Regions from separate parts of the Homo sapiens genome. Here region 2 is linked to region 1. Evidence: fine-mapped expression QTL. Tissue or cell type: whole blood. Region 1 holds a variant in brackets; the other region holds the start of a gene. All regions are shown on one strand. Distances are from middle to middle.

What was found. PIP is the estimated chance that this variant, and not a neighbour inherited with it, causes the effect.
Region 2: ENTPD1-AS1 starts here. The variant in region 1 is fine-mapped to the expression of ENTPD1-AS1 in whole blood (INTERVAL, PIP above 0.99). The same link has a PIP of 0.9 or more in CD4 T cells and blood mononuclear cells.

What each region holds. Positions count from the first base shown.
Region 1 is chr10:95,904,554-95,912,660 of GRCh38, forward strand. It overlaps CC2D2B (coiled-coil and C2 domain containing 2B), which reads left to right and starts at 3,422. Exons shown (of 35, transcript NM_001349008.3): 1 at 3,422-3,504; 2 at 6,748-6,806. The coding sequence starts at 6,771. The region is part of intron 2 of ENTPD1-AS1 (ENTPD1 antisense RNA 1); the gene reads right to left. RefSeq lists enhancers at 3,449-3,638, 3,679-3,738. The variant C/G (reference allele first, on the strand shown) is at 3,393.
Region 2 is chr10:96,086,425-96,094,531 of GRCh38, forward strand. ENTPD1-AS1 (ENTPD1 antisense RNA 1) reads right to left here and starts at 3,811. Exons shown (of 6, transcript NR_038444.1): 1 at 3,558-3,811; 2 at 2,842-2,883. RefSeq lists enhancers at 3,531-3,900, 3,911-3,960.

The DNA.
Region 1 (8,107 bases):
AAAAAGATTACCTTTTTCTCTAAATGTGGCTGTAAAAAAGGAGAGAGAGAAGAAATCTGAGAATAATCCCAGTTGATGGTTTTTCTTTTTGTTTTTGTTTTGTTGGATAGGGCAGATAAAGCCAGGGGAGGGAGGTGGGGAAAGGGTATACTGAAGATAAAAAGGGAGGGTTAAATGATGAAATAAGGCCCCAGAGGAGACAGAATGAATGGGATCTAGGACATATATTGGATCATCTGTAGATAGAAAAAAAAAAAAGAAATAAATCAAACATACCTCTTCATCTGAGACAGGATATCTGCTGATGTTAAGTTGGCCTGGTGGTCAGTGTCACAGTATTCATGTCTGAGAGTCTCTGTTTCCTCTGAAAAAGCCAAGCCAGCTGCTGAAAGTACAAGGTCAAAAGTAGAGTAGGTTTAAGGAACGATAAAAGTTAGAATAGTAGCTGTGGGTGAGAAAGGAAAAGAATGGCTGAGCTACATTATGGACCATGCCATATCATCATGGCAATAATCTGGTTACATGATTTTCACTAATACAATTACCTTTCTATATGAGGAGAGAAAGCAAATGGCTAGACTAAACTAGAATAGGTATGCTGGACAAAAGTGGAAGAAACACAAAAGGCAAAGAAATTGTGGATACTGATGTGGGTAAATAATAAAACAAGGAGTGTGGGCTAGACAAGGAAGAAAGTCAATGTAGGTAGAGGCTGATGATGACAAAATAGTCATCAAGGGACAGCGTCTTCATGAGATCAGGGATTAAGTATAGAAGAATAAGGCAGAGGAAGAGATGAAAGAAACAGGAAGATGAGAAGAGAATACTAGAGTTCGTGATTGTTAATATGGAACAGTCTTAGATATTATGGTCCTGCAGTCAGTCAGTCATGGCAGTAAGTTAAGGGAATATGGGGTGCTGGACCTGTGATACACATGACTGCTTTAGTCCCCCCAGAACCTTGTAGCAATTGAGTATGAAAGAAAGACTGGCCAGGCACAGTGGCTCATGCCTGTAATCCCAGCACTTTGGGATGCCGAGGCGGGTGGATCACCTGCGGTCAGGAATTCAAGACCAGCCTGGCCAACATGGTGAAATCCGGTCTCTCCTAAAAATACAATTAGCTGGGCGTGGTGGTGCACGCCTGTAGTCCCAGCTACTCGGGAGGCTGAGGCAGGAGAATCGCCTGAACCCGGGAGGCAGAGGTTGCAGTAAGTTGAGATCACACCACTGCACTCCAAACTGGGCTGACAGAGACTCCGTCTCAAAAAAAAAAAAAAAAAAAAGACTTGAGTTGGGTACTAAATTCCTTAATGAACATGAGTGACCAGGCAGCTGGTAAATAACAGTGAGGAGAGGGAAAAGGGCTCATTAGAGAAGGGTTTCTGGTAAGTTTTACAAGGGTGGAATGGAATGGCGTAGCAATGGCCATGAGGAGATGGCGAATACAGATACCAGCTCTGGGTCCTGGGGTGGGATGGAATGGCCTAGCAATGGCCATGAGGAGATGGCGAATACAGATACCACCTCTGGGGGGCGGGGGGCGCGGGCAGGCACGGCTTTCGCTGTGGTGAATTGCTGGGAAAGCAGTGTCTCCAGCAGGCATGGCTTTCGCTGTGGTGAATTGCTGGGAAAGCAGTGTCTTCAGGAGACAGCCAGGTACCCAATATCACAAGGAGGAATGTTTTGTGAACAAGAAGATATAAAGACATAGAGGGGTGAGAACATGTGGTGTTTGGTTTTTTGTCCTTGCGATACTTTGCTGAGAATGATGGTTTCCAGCTTCATCCATGTCCCTACAAATGACATGAACTCATCATTTTTTATGGCTGCATAGTATTTCATATGAGAATTGAACAATGAGAACACCTGGACACAGGAAGGGGAACATCACACACCAGGGCCTGTTGTGGAATGGGGGGAGGGGGAGGGATAGCATTAGGAGATATACCTAATGTAAATGACGAGTTAATGGGTGCAGCACACCAACATGGCACATGTATACATATGTAACAAACCTGCACGTTGTGCGCATGTACCCTGGAACTTAAAGTATGATAAAATATATATATATATAAATTTAAAAAAAGATATAGAGGGGTTTACATATGAGGAGTCTAGAAAAAGAGTTTACAGTTTCCAGAAGAAGGCAGATAGTGAGACGATCAGCAGATGGAGAAGGTGTGGGAATGAGGCTGCGAGAAGGGATAAATTATCTGGGTTGTTACCAAGTATGACAGAGACTATAGACAGGGTGGGATTTACGGTCTCAAATGAAACTGTGCCAAGCTGTCAGAGACACTGGGACTCTATTTTGCTTACTAAGGTTAAACACTAGTATTACTTTTGGTCACCATACTATTAAAAAATAAAGACAATCCTACGAAACTTAGGCAATTAATATCAGAATAAAGAGGTCAATAATGTTTATTCTCTATTAACATGTACATTTAGAAAATAAAAGCAAAGCTTAAAAATGCATGGAAGTCTTACACAAGACGACTGTTGGGGCATAATGCCTGACACAGAACGCAGTTAAACACTGTGGAAAGCCTGAATGAGTGAAAGCATACAAACCACCACCGTGCGGCTCTCTACACTAGCAAGTTTCCGAAGTTCGCCCCAGCCGGTTTCCCTGAACAAGTTCCCAACCGCATCACGTTTAGTTTATCTCGTTATTTTAACTCGGAGCGAGGCAATGGGAAAAAGAAAAACAATGAGAGCCGTACTCTGTTTATTAAGCGATGAATGACGACACATGGGTGAGCGTGTCTGGCATGCCCTATTTAAGACTTTAAACATAGTACATTAGTACGCTAACAGCAAGCTCTGGAAATAAAAGGAACCGCTTGCATATTTAGGGGGCTCTTTTGTAAGCCACAAAGGAAATCACCTGAAGTCAAAGCTCCCCTCTTTTCCTAGCAAGGCAGGGACGACGGCAAAGAGAAAGTAGGTCCCGGGGCGCTGCAACCCGTGCAACTTGCCGGCTGGCGTCCCCCGGCCTCGCGCCTCCACGCCCTGCGCGGGCGACCGCTCTTGCCACAACGGCGCCCCGCAGCGTCCTCCCCGGGGACGCCCGCTCAGCCGGGAGCTCGCGGCCGGTACTCACCCGCTGGGTATACTCTTCTTCTTCACCAGGACGAGAGGGATGAGAGACCCACGCCCCAGGCAACCCCGCTCTCAGGCCTCCTCCAGAACAGACCCCAGGGTACGCTACAACTCACACGCTCACGGGCAGAGGCGAGGGGCGGGGGTGATAGACCCCGGCGGCGAACAGACTTGGCGCACCGAAGATTCCCAAAGGCGCGTGCTCCGCTCCCTCTGGGTCCTGGCAGGCCAGGGGCGGCAGCGCGCATGCTCCTGGGTCGCCGCTACTTGCAGCCCGCGGGCGC[C/G]GTAGGGCTGGCGCAGGGTGCGGTGGGGCGGTTGGTGATCATCCTAGCCTGCGGTAGATGGTGCGCCCTGCCTTCCCTGCCCAGACGTAAGAAAAGTGCACTGTCCGTCCAGGTGAATGTCGGGCTGCTGGTGAAGGTTTCTCTGATTCTTCCCTGTCAGACATTCCCGCACTTTTGTGGAGCTCTGCTGCATGGGCAGAACTAGCTGGGCTGGGATAACCGGAGCCGGGGCCGCGCAGGCCGCTGGGACTTGTAGTTCGGGGGCCTGGCCGACCGGTTTGTTAGCCAATTTGGGAATGAGTAGAATTGAAAATCACTCGAGAGCAGTGTTTGATTTGCAAGAAATACGGGTCGGCATATTATTAATTCAGTGCCTACTGTGTGTGCTGAACACCTTGCCTTAGTCCTGATCTTCACATTAGGATAAGCAGGAAGATGAACTTGGAAGGTAGAATGTAATGAACAAAAATTCGCATTATGAACTACAAATGCTGTTGGAGATCAAGAGACAGAGTTAGAAAAAACTTCCTGAAAGACGTGGAGTTTGAATCAGCCTTAGAAACACGGAATGCTATCCATTTGCGGGGAAGTTGTAAAAATTAAAGGTTGGAGATGCCAGGGAGAATAAACAAGAACTCCATCCAGCTATAGTTGAGGGGTTATGTTGGAGAGTGGTCAATGTTGGAGAGTGGTCACTGCGGCTTAGATGGGGAAGTGATGTGAGAGTTTTTTGGCTTCACTTTCAGAAAGGGCCTCCTGGTTGACTTTCTCTCTAATTGAGGCTATAAGTATAGACACAGAGATACATCTTCAGGTTTGAATAAAAAACATTACAGTACTTGTTTAGAGCTTCTGGGCCTCCTGGCCAGTGGTTGCTCTAAGAATTAATACATTTTTATAAATCTTGTAATTCACCTTTGAGTAGCAAAACTACGTTGCATGGTGTGTGTTAGATGTAAATTTTCAAAATATAATATGATAGTTTTTGTAACCTGTTTCCACATTAGTTTTCATGTACCAGAAGTCCCAAGATAGAGAAGTGGGCCCAAATCTTTCTTGATCTACAGGAGCAGGACATGATGACTTGGGAACTGGTCCTCAGAGCAGTGGGTGATTTAGTTTTGTTGCCTTTCGAAGACTTAAATAAATTCACAGATCAGAAAATCTTTTGTCACGCCGTTTGTTCCTAAGTTTTGATTTTGGAAAACAAGATAACAGTTAAGTTAATTTTTAAACTTGCCAGTTAATGCAATACATGGAAGTCATAATGTTTTTTGTAGAACACTGTGAAATACTGCTATATTCCTCTTAACTAAGTAAAGAATTGTTAAGTTAAATTCCACTTCTTCCATATCCTAATAACAATAAAGGGTAGCTGGTGCTATATATTTAATAGATTATTTTTACAAAATGCTATTGTTGCCTTAATTACATCATAACTGTGAATGAGACCTTAATTCTGGACATAGCATCCTAATTCAAATTAAGTCTGGAAGGCATCATTTAGGAAACATTGCTATAAGAGAGTTCAGAAAGGTGTCATCATACTATGTGACAATAGATGAACTGAGATAAAGATAAAATTGGATTTTGGTCTGAATTCAGATCTGCTAAGGAAGGAAAGTGCATTAATACATTTAGAAATATTTCTAACAAGAGCCAGGGGAAGATTAAAGGGAACCAATTTTCTGATTGGATCACAATTAAAGATATGTTACTATATACTAAGATATGCATTGTGTAACCATTTCCACATGCTAGAGGTTTTTCTGTGGTTTTATTTTGCTAGCACTCCTGAAACCAAATGGCCTGTGACAGAAGTAACCAAGGTGACTGAAAATTGTGCCAAAAAGAAGTCTGTGCTGATTCAGGGATCCACATAGTCTTGTGCCCGCAGAATTGATTTAGAAATTTGTTTAGGCAAAGCGCAGTGGCTCATGCCTATAATTCCAATGCTTTGAGAGGCTGAGGCAGGAGGATTGCTTGAGGCCAAGAGTTTGAGACCAGCCTGAGCAACACAGCGAGACCCTGTCTGTACCTAATAATAACAATAATAATAATTAGCCGAGCCTTAGAGACACATGCCTGTAGTCCTAGCTACTCAAGAGGTGGAAGCAGGTGGATCACTTGAGCCCAGGAGTTCAAGGCTGTAATGAGCTGTCATCATGCCACTGCACTTCAGCCTGGGTGAAAGAGTGAGACCCTGTCTCTAAAAAACAAACAGATAAACAAAAACTTGTGTGGCATTCTAGTTTCTACAAATGTCTGGGGAATTGCATGAACTTGCATTTAACCGTCATGTTGAATGATACTCTTGTATTAGGCCATTCTTGCGTTGCAATAGAAGAATACTGGGTAATTTATAAAGAAAAGAGTTTTAATTGGCTCACAGTTCTGCAGGCTATATAAGCATGGCTCTAACATCTGCTTCTGGTGAGGGCATCAGGGAGCTTACAATCATGGTGGAAGGGAAGGGGAGCCAGCATGTCACATGGCAAGAGAGGAAATAAAGGAAGGAGGGGGGAGGTCCTAGACAGACTCTTTTAAACAACTAGATCTCATGTGAACTAACTGAGCAAGAACTCATCATGAAGGGGATGGTGCTAAGCCAACCATGAGGTATCCACCCCCACAATCCAATCACTTCCCACCTGGCCACATGTCCATTATTGGGAATCACATTTCAACATGAGATTTGGAGGAGACAAACATCCAAATAGATCTCTAGTATCTATTAGTAGCCTTTTAATCAATTTCCCTGCCTCCATAGAATATCTATATTTAATCATTGCCTCTTGGCCTTTTGGCTAAGATCAAATGTATATTTAATCAGATCCTTTTTTTTCTTACTGCAAAGTTTTATACTTTTGGGGGGAAGGGAATTCATACATATTTTAATTAAAATAATTCCTTAGTATCTTGAAGTTTTTTTCAGTACCCTTTTTGTGAAAGTGATTTTTTTCTAGTACATTAGCATGTAGGGAAGATACTGACTTTTACATATATTCTCTTGTATTCTGCCAATTCCAATTTTCTAATTATGTCTAAACTTTATTTAGTCTTTTGGGTTTTTCATGTATAAAAACCTATCATCTACAAACAATGATAATTTTGTTTTCCTCTTCCAAGAGTTACACCTCTTACTTCCTTCTTTTGCACATCTTATTGCATTAACCGGGATTTCTATTAAATACTGAAGGTGACCAAATACAAATATGAAATAGTAAAAGTGATAGTATATCTGTTTTGTTTCTTGTTAAATTAAAAAATTTAAAAAGCATACTTTTAACCTCAAGTATCACAAGTCAGTTTTCTTATGATATGTCATTCTCAATAATATTTCTTATTTATTTAGAAAGTTGAAATAAAAGGACCATCATGAAAAAATCTCAAAGAGAAGATATTTTTAAAAAGGTAAGGTATTAATGGAGTTTATAATATTTTGATTATTCCAAATAGCCCTGTTGTAAATGGGGGATAATCCTGATAAATGTGATACATTTGTTTCTATATACAAATCATAAATTCATATGTAAAAAAAGAAACAATAGGAGAGTTTAGGGATGAATTGTATTCTTATTTGGTCTGTAAGTTATTTAATAAGATGAATTATTTATGTATGTATTTATTTAATCTCTTACTTCAATATCTATTTGTTTATATGTTCTCTCACCTAGCCAACAAGCCATTCCCTGCTTTGTTAAAAAAGATGTTTGTCAGTGAGTTAAATCTATATAGGAGCAATATTTACATGTCTCTTAGAGTAACTGCAATTAAGATTCACATTTTATCCCTACCTTCTAGATGGAAATGAGAACTTATGAAAAAGTATACAGGATTCTGGGAATGGTGGGCAAGATATTTGGGAACTAATAAGGGAGACCCTCTATCAGTTACTTGCCAGAATTGTTCCATCATACCTTAAGGGTTGCTATCCCCTGGTCAAGAGTAGAATTAGGTATTTTTTATTGTCTTGAGGTAGGTACTGAAGGTTGAATAAGATGTAAGGGAACATTGTAGTCTGTGTTGACCTTATTCAGTAGTTTTTAATAGTGGTACAAGAACGAATAGTAGATTTTGAAGTTTTTTCGGAAAGTTTATAGACTGGGCTCTTTTTATGATATTTTAACTGTGATCATGTCAATAGCCTGCTTTGGTTTTTGACACAAATTCATGTTTTTACTGTGATTAGAAAGCTTGAGATTTCCAACTGCACATTAGTTTGGTTAGCATGTACAGTTGTTATTTCAGGAGTCTTTGCTATTATATTTTTTAGCATTAAAATTAAAAAGAAACTTATAACCATATCATTCTAAAAAGGGTTTAACATTGCTAGAATAGTTTACCTATAGAATATTGAGGTTTATAAAAACTGGAAAAGAAATGCTTATTTTAACATACTGAATTTTTGTTGATGATACAACATTCAACTAGAATTACCAGAAGTCAGCTAGAAATATGATTTTGATGCTTAGGAGAGTGAAGGCTGGAGACACAGATTTGGGAATCCATGGGAATATGTGCACCCTCCAAAGCTTTGGAATGTACCCAACATTTAGGATATGAAGAGGTATGACCATTGAAGGATACAGAAATAAGTGGCCACAGAGGTAGAAGGGTAGAGGGCAAGGATATATAAAGTTTTCAAAAAATAAGGTTGCTGAACGTTGCCACACGCTGCAGGGTAATAAATCAAGTAATAGCTAAAACTAGTA
Region 2 (8,107 bases), 180 kb after region 1:
GAACACTTTTCTGCCCACTGACATAATTTCAATTATGACATAATTTCAATTGTAGTTTATTTTTATTGTTCATAACTCAGAAATATTCAATATTATTTGTATACTAGGAAAGATAGTATGCCTAATCACCTCCAGAATACTCACAAAAATTAAATAAGCTATCAAATCACATTTTTAAAACTTTTTTTACAATCAAGATTTCTAAAAATTAAATAATGTTCCTATACTTTGGCCACTTTAAAAATAAATCAGATTCTTTGTTGGAAAGTCTATAAGCCAGCATTTCAATTTTTACTATAACTCTTCGAGGAACAAAATATACCCCATACTTGATGACAATCAGCAATAATCAGCAGAAGAAAAGATATTTGGAAAGAAAGACAGTTTACAACAGTGAACTTCTGAATGCAAAAAATTTCAGTGCAAAATAGTTTTACACTATTAATACTATTGCAGTCATGTGCTACATAATGACATTTCACTGACGGTCCCATAAAGTTATAATATTTTTACTGTACCTTTTCTATGTCTAGACATGTTTACATATGCAAATACCATTGTGTTACAACCACCTATGGTATCCAGTACAGTAACATGCTATACAGGTTTGTAACCTAGGAGCAATACGCCATACCATACAGATATGTAGTAGCCCATACCATGTAGATTTATGTAAGTACACGCACAATAACAAAATCACCCAACACATTTCTCAGAATGTATCCCTGTCATTAAGCGATGCATGACTGTGTATTTTATGTCTAATTCAAGTCAAACACAATTTTTTAATATTGTATTTGTAATATGAAATGAAGACGTGGCAGGGCACAGTGGCTGATGCCTGTAATCCTAGAACTTTGGAAGCTGAGGCAGGCAGATGGCTTGAGCCCAGAAGTTCAAGACCAGCCTGGGAAATATGGTAAGACCCTGTCTCTACAAAAAAATTCAAAAATTAACTGGTGCGGTGGTGTGTGCCTGTAGTCCTAGCTACTTGGGAGGCTGAGGCGGGAGGATCACTTGAGCCTTGGAGGCAGAGGTTGCAGTGAGCCAAGATAGCGTCACTGCACTCCAGCATGAGCAACAGAGTGAGATTGTCTCAAACAAAGAAAAAAGAAATGAAGACTTGTTTACTTCATTGAGTAAATGATTACTGAACACTCACTATGTGCCAGGCATGTTCTCAATATGGGGGATTCACAGGTGATAAAGACAAACATAGTTTCTACTTTTCCATTATCATGAAGCCCAAATTTTTTAAAAATTTATTTTGCAGATGTCATCAAACGAAGTCTATGTGTTATCTTGAATCATTTACATTCAAAAATACTTAATCCTGCAATAAAATGTTAAAAAGTCACAGATGTTACAGAGTCAGGGTTGAAAAAGAGCTCATTAGTTCCAAGATGCACATTATTTTACATTTTGACATCTCTGAAATCAGTCACATCTTACAATGTAATCAGACTAGACGGCAATGGAGATGGAGTTGGCACTGCCGTGCATCAAAACTTCAAAACTCAGAATGAGCACTAGGGGCTTGGAAGAAAATCCCAGGTTTGATGGTAAAGGCACCATTTTAAGGAATTTTTTTTTTTTTTTTTGTGGTAGAGATGGGATATCGCTATGCTGACTGACCAGGCTGGTCTCAAACTCCTGGCCTCAAGCAATCCTCCCATCTGGGCCTCCCAAAGTGGTGGGATTACAGGCGTGAAGCACCACACCCAGCCTTAAGGATTTCTGATGATTCAAGATTCAATAAAACATAATAGTTCAAAGTTTTCATTTATTATAGGTGAGGAAAATGAAATTCAGAGTGGTCACACAACTTGCCCTAGTTTACAAAGCTGGACAGGTAGAATAGAGTCCAGGTCTGTTTTCTACAGTCATTCACTCTTCTACCAGTGTTCAGTTATATGGAGGAAAAGGGTGTCATACAAAACAAGTAGGTAAGAAGATGGCTCTAAGTTACAAAGACGGATTTGTAACTTAATCCGTCCTTGCCTCAGTTTCTCCATCTATTAAAACAGGGATTTAACAAACCTAACTCACAGTACTGCTGTAAGCATTAAATAAAATATGTCTAGCAATTATCACAAAGATTGGCATATGGTAAATACTCCATAAATGTCAACTACTTGAGATCAAACTTTACATTTATTATACACTAAGTCAAGCCCACATATAGTTGTCTAAAGCGCTTGAAAACTAAATAAACTGGTCAAGTGTTTGAAGTGATAAATACAATGAAAATTTCCACCTTAACAATGTTTTGTCCAGGTACTATGCCAAGAACCCAATAGACCTACCTGCAAGAAACCATACAAAAAGCAAGATTCCAGGCTGGCATGACGATCAAATTATGTACTTCAATGCGTGTGAATGCATTTATAAGCACAGTCTCAATACATAAATAAGGAACAAAATATTTAAAATGTATAAACAGATCATTTCTCTTTGCTTTCTTTAAAATACTATATCAGAATCACCTGAGGAACTTGATAACAATTTTTTTAAAAACTATTATAACTACGTATATTAAGCCTTGTTAAAACCACAAGTTTTAGAGGTTTAAGCCTTACTAGGTCAGCTCTTCTGATTTTGAGAGTTTAAGTGAAAATTTAAATTATAACACAGTATGTGGAGTAAACCTGCTTCAAATATTAGTTTCTACATTATTGTTTCTATAAAAATAGTAATCTTCTGTATTTTAATATCAACTCATCACATATTAAATATTTCAGTCAAATCAAAATTTCATTTGAAATCTTCAATCTAAAAAATACACAGTTAAGCGCTTAAAAAGTAATTTTAACCACTAGGAAATGTTAATGATTAACTCACATTTGTTTCTGTTTCACTCCATGACAAAGTCTATAGGACACCCTGCAGAGAGGAAAACTCACATTAATATACCCATAATTTTACTTTCAGAAGCTTCTGGTAATCAAAGACTTATTATGAGGTGTCTTCATGTTACCACTGCGCAGTAGCAAACTTAAAATATTCTAAAGATTAATCTATTTTCTCATTTTTTTAATGCTTTTGTTAAAATCTCAACAAGTACTAACATGTTATCTAAATTTAAACCTTAAAACAATAACACGACCCAATATGTGAACTCTGCCTATTAATTCTAAAACTTTTAATAATAGTTTGCTTATGTTTGAGACTTAAAACAATAACATACTGCACTACACCCATCTTAGATATTTTCTAGGATCAAAGTCTATCTGGAGCAGGGCAAGCTGTGGTTGAGGGTGGTTGGGTCAGCAGGTAAGAGCCTTATGACCAGCTCTAAACGCCTCCACGGTGAGGAGCACCTCGAGCTAACAGACCAAGCACCAAAGGGTGGAACAGCTCAAGGTTGCATTTAGGAGACTCCAGCCTCGGCCGCCCGTGACTCCTCGACGAGCCCCACCTCTCTCGGTTCCAGCATCCGGCCCGCCCCTTCCTCCCAGGCTACCACAGTATCGCCCGCCGAGCTCCCGGGCTGCGGGAAATGACGGAAACAAAAACTTGGTACACAAAGAAGGGCTAGGTCAGAAGTGAGGTCCCACCCTGGCAAGAAGGGCGACTTTTCTAGAAAAACTTAGCGGCAAGTTAACGGGAAGCGCGGCGACACAGTTCCTACGATTGTGGGGGGCACTCTGCCGCCAGGCAGTCTCATCCTTTGTCCTTTGAGAGGCCTCCTTGAAGCCGAAGGCTCTTAAGTGTCCCTGGGCAACCCTTGACTCGATCTCCATTACGGGCCCTCACTGACAGCAGCCATGACAGTTGCTTCCGGATATATTGAATCGCCGCGGCCAGAGTCTCCCGGAAGTGACGCAACGCGGAGGGATCCGCGTTCGGCAGTGGGAGACCGAAGCGAAGTGGTTCCCGGAAGCGGCTGCAGCTGGGCTGCTGGTGGCGGGGCGGGGGTAGAGTGGGGAGAGAGGTTGTGGGTCTTACAACCAACCAACCCCAACACGTTTTACGTGTTAGGCAGGCATTGTGCTGAACACCTCATTGGCAAGCCATTTAATCCCTTCCTTACAATCCCAGCAGTCAGAAATGTATCACTTACATTTTATATATGGGGAAACTAAGGTTAAGAGAGGGCAAGTAAATTTGTCCGAGATCGTATAGCTGGTACTTGGTGAACGTGGTCTAACCCAGACACCGCGTTCTCCCTGGTGACTCCATTTTGTAAAACCAGAGCTGTTGGCGCATGGCATCCTCGTAAGCCCCTTTAAGTTAGGCACTCTGTTGCCCAGAGAGGGGCCAACTTGTAGCCAGTATGCTCTTTATGGTGAACACAAGGCCCACGTGTGTGCCTGGGTCCCCTTGGCTGAACCTCGGATTTCAATTGGTTTCTGACACCTTGCCTTTGCAGCATTCTCCGTCTGCAGCGCTGGTTACCTGAGGAAACTGTCAATGATTGCTAGGCTCTGGGGAACATTTTAGCTCCGTTTAGGCCCTTTTAAATCCAGGACTAAGACAGTTGGAGGCCTCTCACCATCACCAGATACTCTAGCTGGCCTTAACAGAGGGCCAAGGACCATAATCTTGGACTTTCCACCAGACCAAGTGTTTGTTTGGCTTCTGTTTCTTTAGAATATGACTGAAAACCAATCTGTAGTTTGTTTAGTCTTCTTTCTGCATTGACCAGTACTCACATAATAAAGTGGGACTAGCCACTAAGGCTATGTTTTTGTAAAAACAAATTATGCCTAGAAAAACACAAGAAATACATCAAAATTAACAGTGATAGTGTTTGAATAGAGAGTGATTTTATTTTTTTCTCTCTGCTTTCTCTTTTGCATATCTGCTATAAAACCCTTTTAAAATAGAAAAATAAGCAAACTGGCTATGGTAAAAACATTTTTAATTGCCTGCTGTTATAATGACGGCAAAGGCATGTTGTCACATTTTGATAAATGACCGTCCTTGATACAAATCACGTAGAGAAATCCTGTTTGACTAGAAAAGCATTGGATTTTTGTGAGTCAGTGTATTCTCAAAATTTTCGATATTTTGTTTTGGTTCTATAATCCTCACAGGAAAAGTAAAAAAGCAAATTGATGTTTTTCACACACTTTCGTATGAGAGTATGCTACCACCAAAAGTCTTCCCTAAAACAAAGTTGCAGGGGTCAAGTCATGTGGGGCGTTTGGATACTTGAAATGGTGGAGAACAAATATAAAAAGCTATTTTTATTCTGGCTGCTTTGGGGTACAGTTTTAAGCAATTTATTTCAGACTGCCAAAGAAAGCTTCATTCTTTATTCACATACTCTACTTCCCACTATTGCTTATTAGTGACTTCTAAAGCAGTGACAAAACAAGTAAAAGAAGATAGAAAGGAAAAATGAGAAGGGATCACGGGAAGAAGAAAATGTGGAGGAACAAAGACAGATGGTGATATTGGGGTTACTTTGGAACTCCAGGGTAGCATGTAACAGCCTTCTTATCCAAGTCCTGGCACAGGCCTGGTTGCCTACTAAAAGGTAAATTAGCATCTATGATGTTCCTGCTCACATACTCAGCACCCACAGTGATAAGTCTTACTAAAAATTCATCTTGATGCGCATTCAAATTAGACATATATTTTAACAAAAATGGAGGGGTTGAACAACAAGAAATGTAAAGTAAAATCCCATCATTTTTCCTGTTTTTTTATCTTACCATGTCATTCATTCATCCTGTGGTTAGTAGTATAACTATAAACTGGAAGTTTTGCCTGCAGCATTATAAAGCAACAACTATGAAACGCCAAAGTGAGGTGCTGACAAGATGCATGTTTTCCAAAGAAATGTCTTTACATTAGTCTGGCTCTGATGAGAAGTTGTTATGATGGGATTAAATGTGCAACAATTTTATTAGAGGAAACACCTGTGAGAGAGAATGGGCGGGAGCCAAGCAAGACTGGGAGAGGCTGCAAGTCTGAAATTGAGTAAAGCAGAGAGAGAGGGAAGGGTGGTGGAAGTTTCCTGGACTGCCAAACAGTCTAAGCAAGATTTAGAAAGGCTATTGGAAATCCTCAAGCCAAAATCACCTGTCAGAGGAGTCCTTCTTTCAGGAGCCAGCCTGCCTTATTATCTGTGCTGCTCTCAGTCACCGGCTGGAGCAGCCCATGGGTGAAAATGTGGCCAGGGAATTCAGAGTGCAGCAAGCATCTAGAGCCCTTGATCAGTTTTGCTCCCTGTATTGGCAGCCACAGTCCAAGAACTGGTTTTGCCGCTATTGGAACCTTTCACCAGTTTCATGGGTTAAAAGAAGATGTTGAAAGAGATGAGTTTATGAGGAGAAGTTTTGGGGAGAGCCATTGTTATATGCTTCCCCAGTCACCTTCAAGTCTAGTGAAGGGGGCTTCAATAGCAATACTCAGAGAACTTGACATGCATTTCCTGGGTTTTGAGAGGTACAGTAGTATCGTGACTCACATCTGGGAAATCCCAGGGGTAGGAGAGATGGGCCAGTGAGAATTTTGGCATAGGAGTGAAGGAAAGTTGCTATGTTGGGATCTGTAGTCACTGCCGTAGTTTGTCAAGGCAAATGATGCCTGAGTGTTTCTCGTGCAGCAGATGTGGGCCACGTGAAAAAAAGAGAAAGTTGGCCTGAGACCTTTTTGACTCTTGTGTATGGAGAGAATCTGTATGGTATGGATTGTTAGAGAAGCCATAGCTGTAGATGGAGCAATAGCTGGAGGAACAGAATGTATTGCCTATCTAGAGTGACCAACTTGTCCAGTGCCCTTGGACTTTCCCTGCTTTAGTACCAAAAGTCCCAAGTCCCAGGAATCCATGTTTGATCATTCTGTGTGTCATAGGAGTTGCAGCATCCAACGAACCTAAAAATCACCCGTGAGAGTGAGCCAAGTTTAAGTTTCAAGCAGGTCTAGAGTGTAAAACCAGCTTATGACCATGCCGGGATTAAAGTAGATTTTAGCAGAGGACAATTTGAAAATGACGCTGAAACAAAAATTTCTACACACTCTTTTTTTGGAGTGTGTATTAGTCTGTTGACACAGCCAAAATACCATAGACTGAGTGGCTTACACACAGAGATTTATTTTCTCACTGTCCTGGAAGCTCAAAGTTCAAAACCAGGGTTTTGACCAATTTGCTTTCTGGTGAGGGGCATTCTTCCTGGGTTGCAGCTGGCTGCCTTCTCACAATATCCTCATATGGCCTTTCCTCGGTACATACTCGAGATGAAGAGGCGTGGAAGAGAAAGAGAGAGAACTTTCTGGTGTATCTTCTTATAAGACACTAATTCTGTCAGATCAGGGACCCACCCTTATGACCTCATTTCATCTTAATTACTTCCTTAGAGGCCCCATCTCCAGATATAGCCACAGCGGGGGTTAGGGCTTTACCATATGAATTTGACGGGCACACAAACGTTCAATCCATCACAGAGTGTGACTCTGCAACACAGAGATACCTTTTTTGGGTAGGGGCGGTCATGAGAACATTAGGTCTGTGTTTATGTCTCACACTCTTAAGGAGAAGTTATGCTATGGTGACTTTGCAGCCCTGTATCTTTATGAACAAATGTAAATATGATGTCTATAGATCGTTTGTGACACTTTTAGAGCTCTTTAGACATTACTTTAATCTTGTCAAGGAAAGTTGGATACCCAGAGGACCCTGTTATTTTTGTGTTCTGCAGAGCAGAGGATGTCACACGCTAATGTTCACACTACTGAACTCATGAGGAAACCCACAACAGACTCTGTGTACATAGTGATCAGGACTTGGGCTAAGCCCTGGGGCTTGTACTTAGCTACAGGGACTTAGTAAACAGTGGAACTATTCTGATAAGGGATATGTTACTGCTTCTATTTATGAAATTTGATTTTTTTTAAAGTTAACACAGGATTGGCTAATCAGAGAATATATCCTCTTACATCTTTTTTACAAATATGAACTCAAGTAGTTGTAAGACTCCAGCTTAAAAGGCCAGTATATTAAGAATGAATTGCTGTTAAACAAAACAAAACAAAAAAAAGACAGACATAGATTTGAGCTTCCTTTAGCATCCACTTGATCCTTCCAGGAGGTATAGCTGTTTTTTTAATTCCTTAAGGGGTATAATAGTTGGAATTATGTTCAGCTATGAGGAAG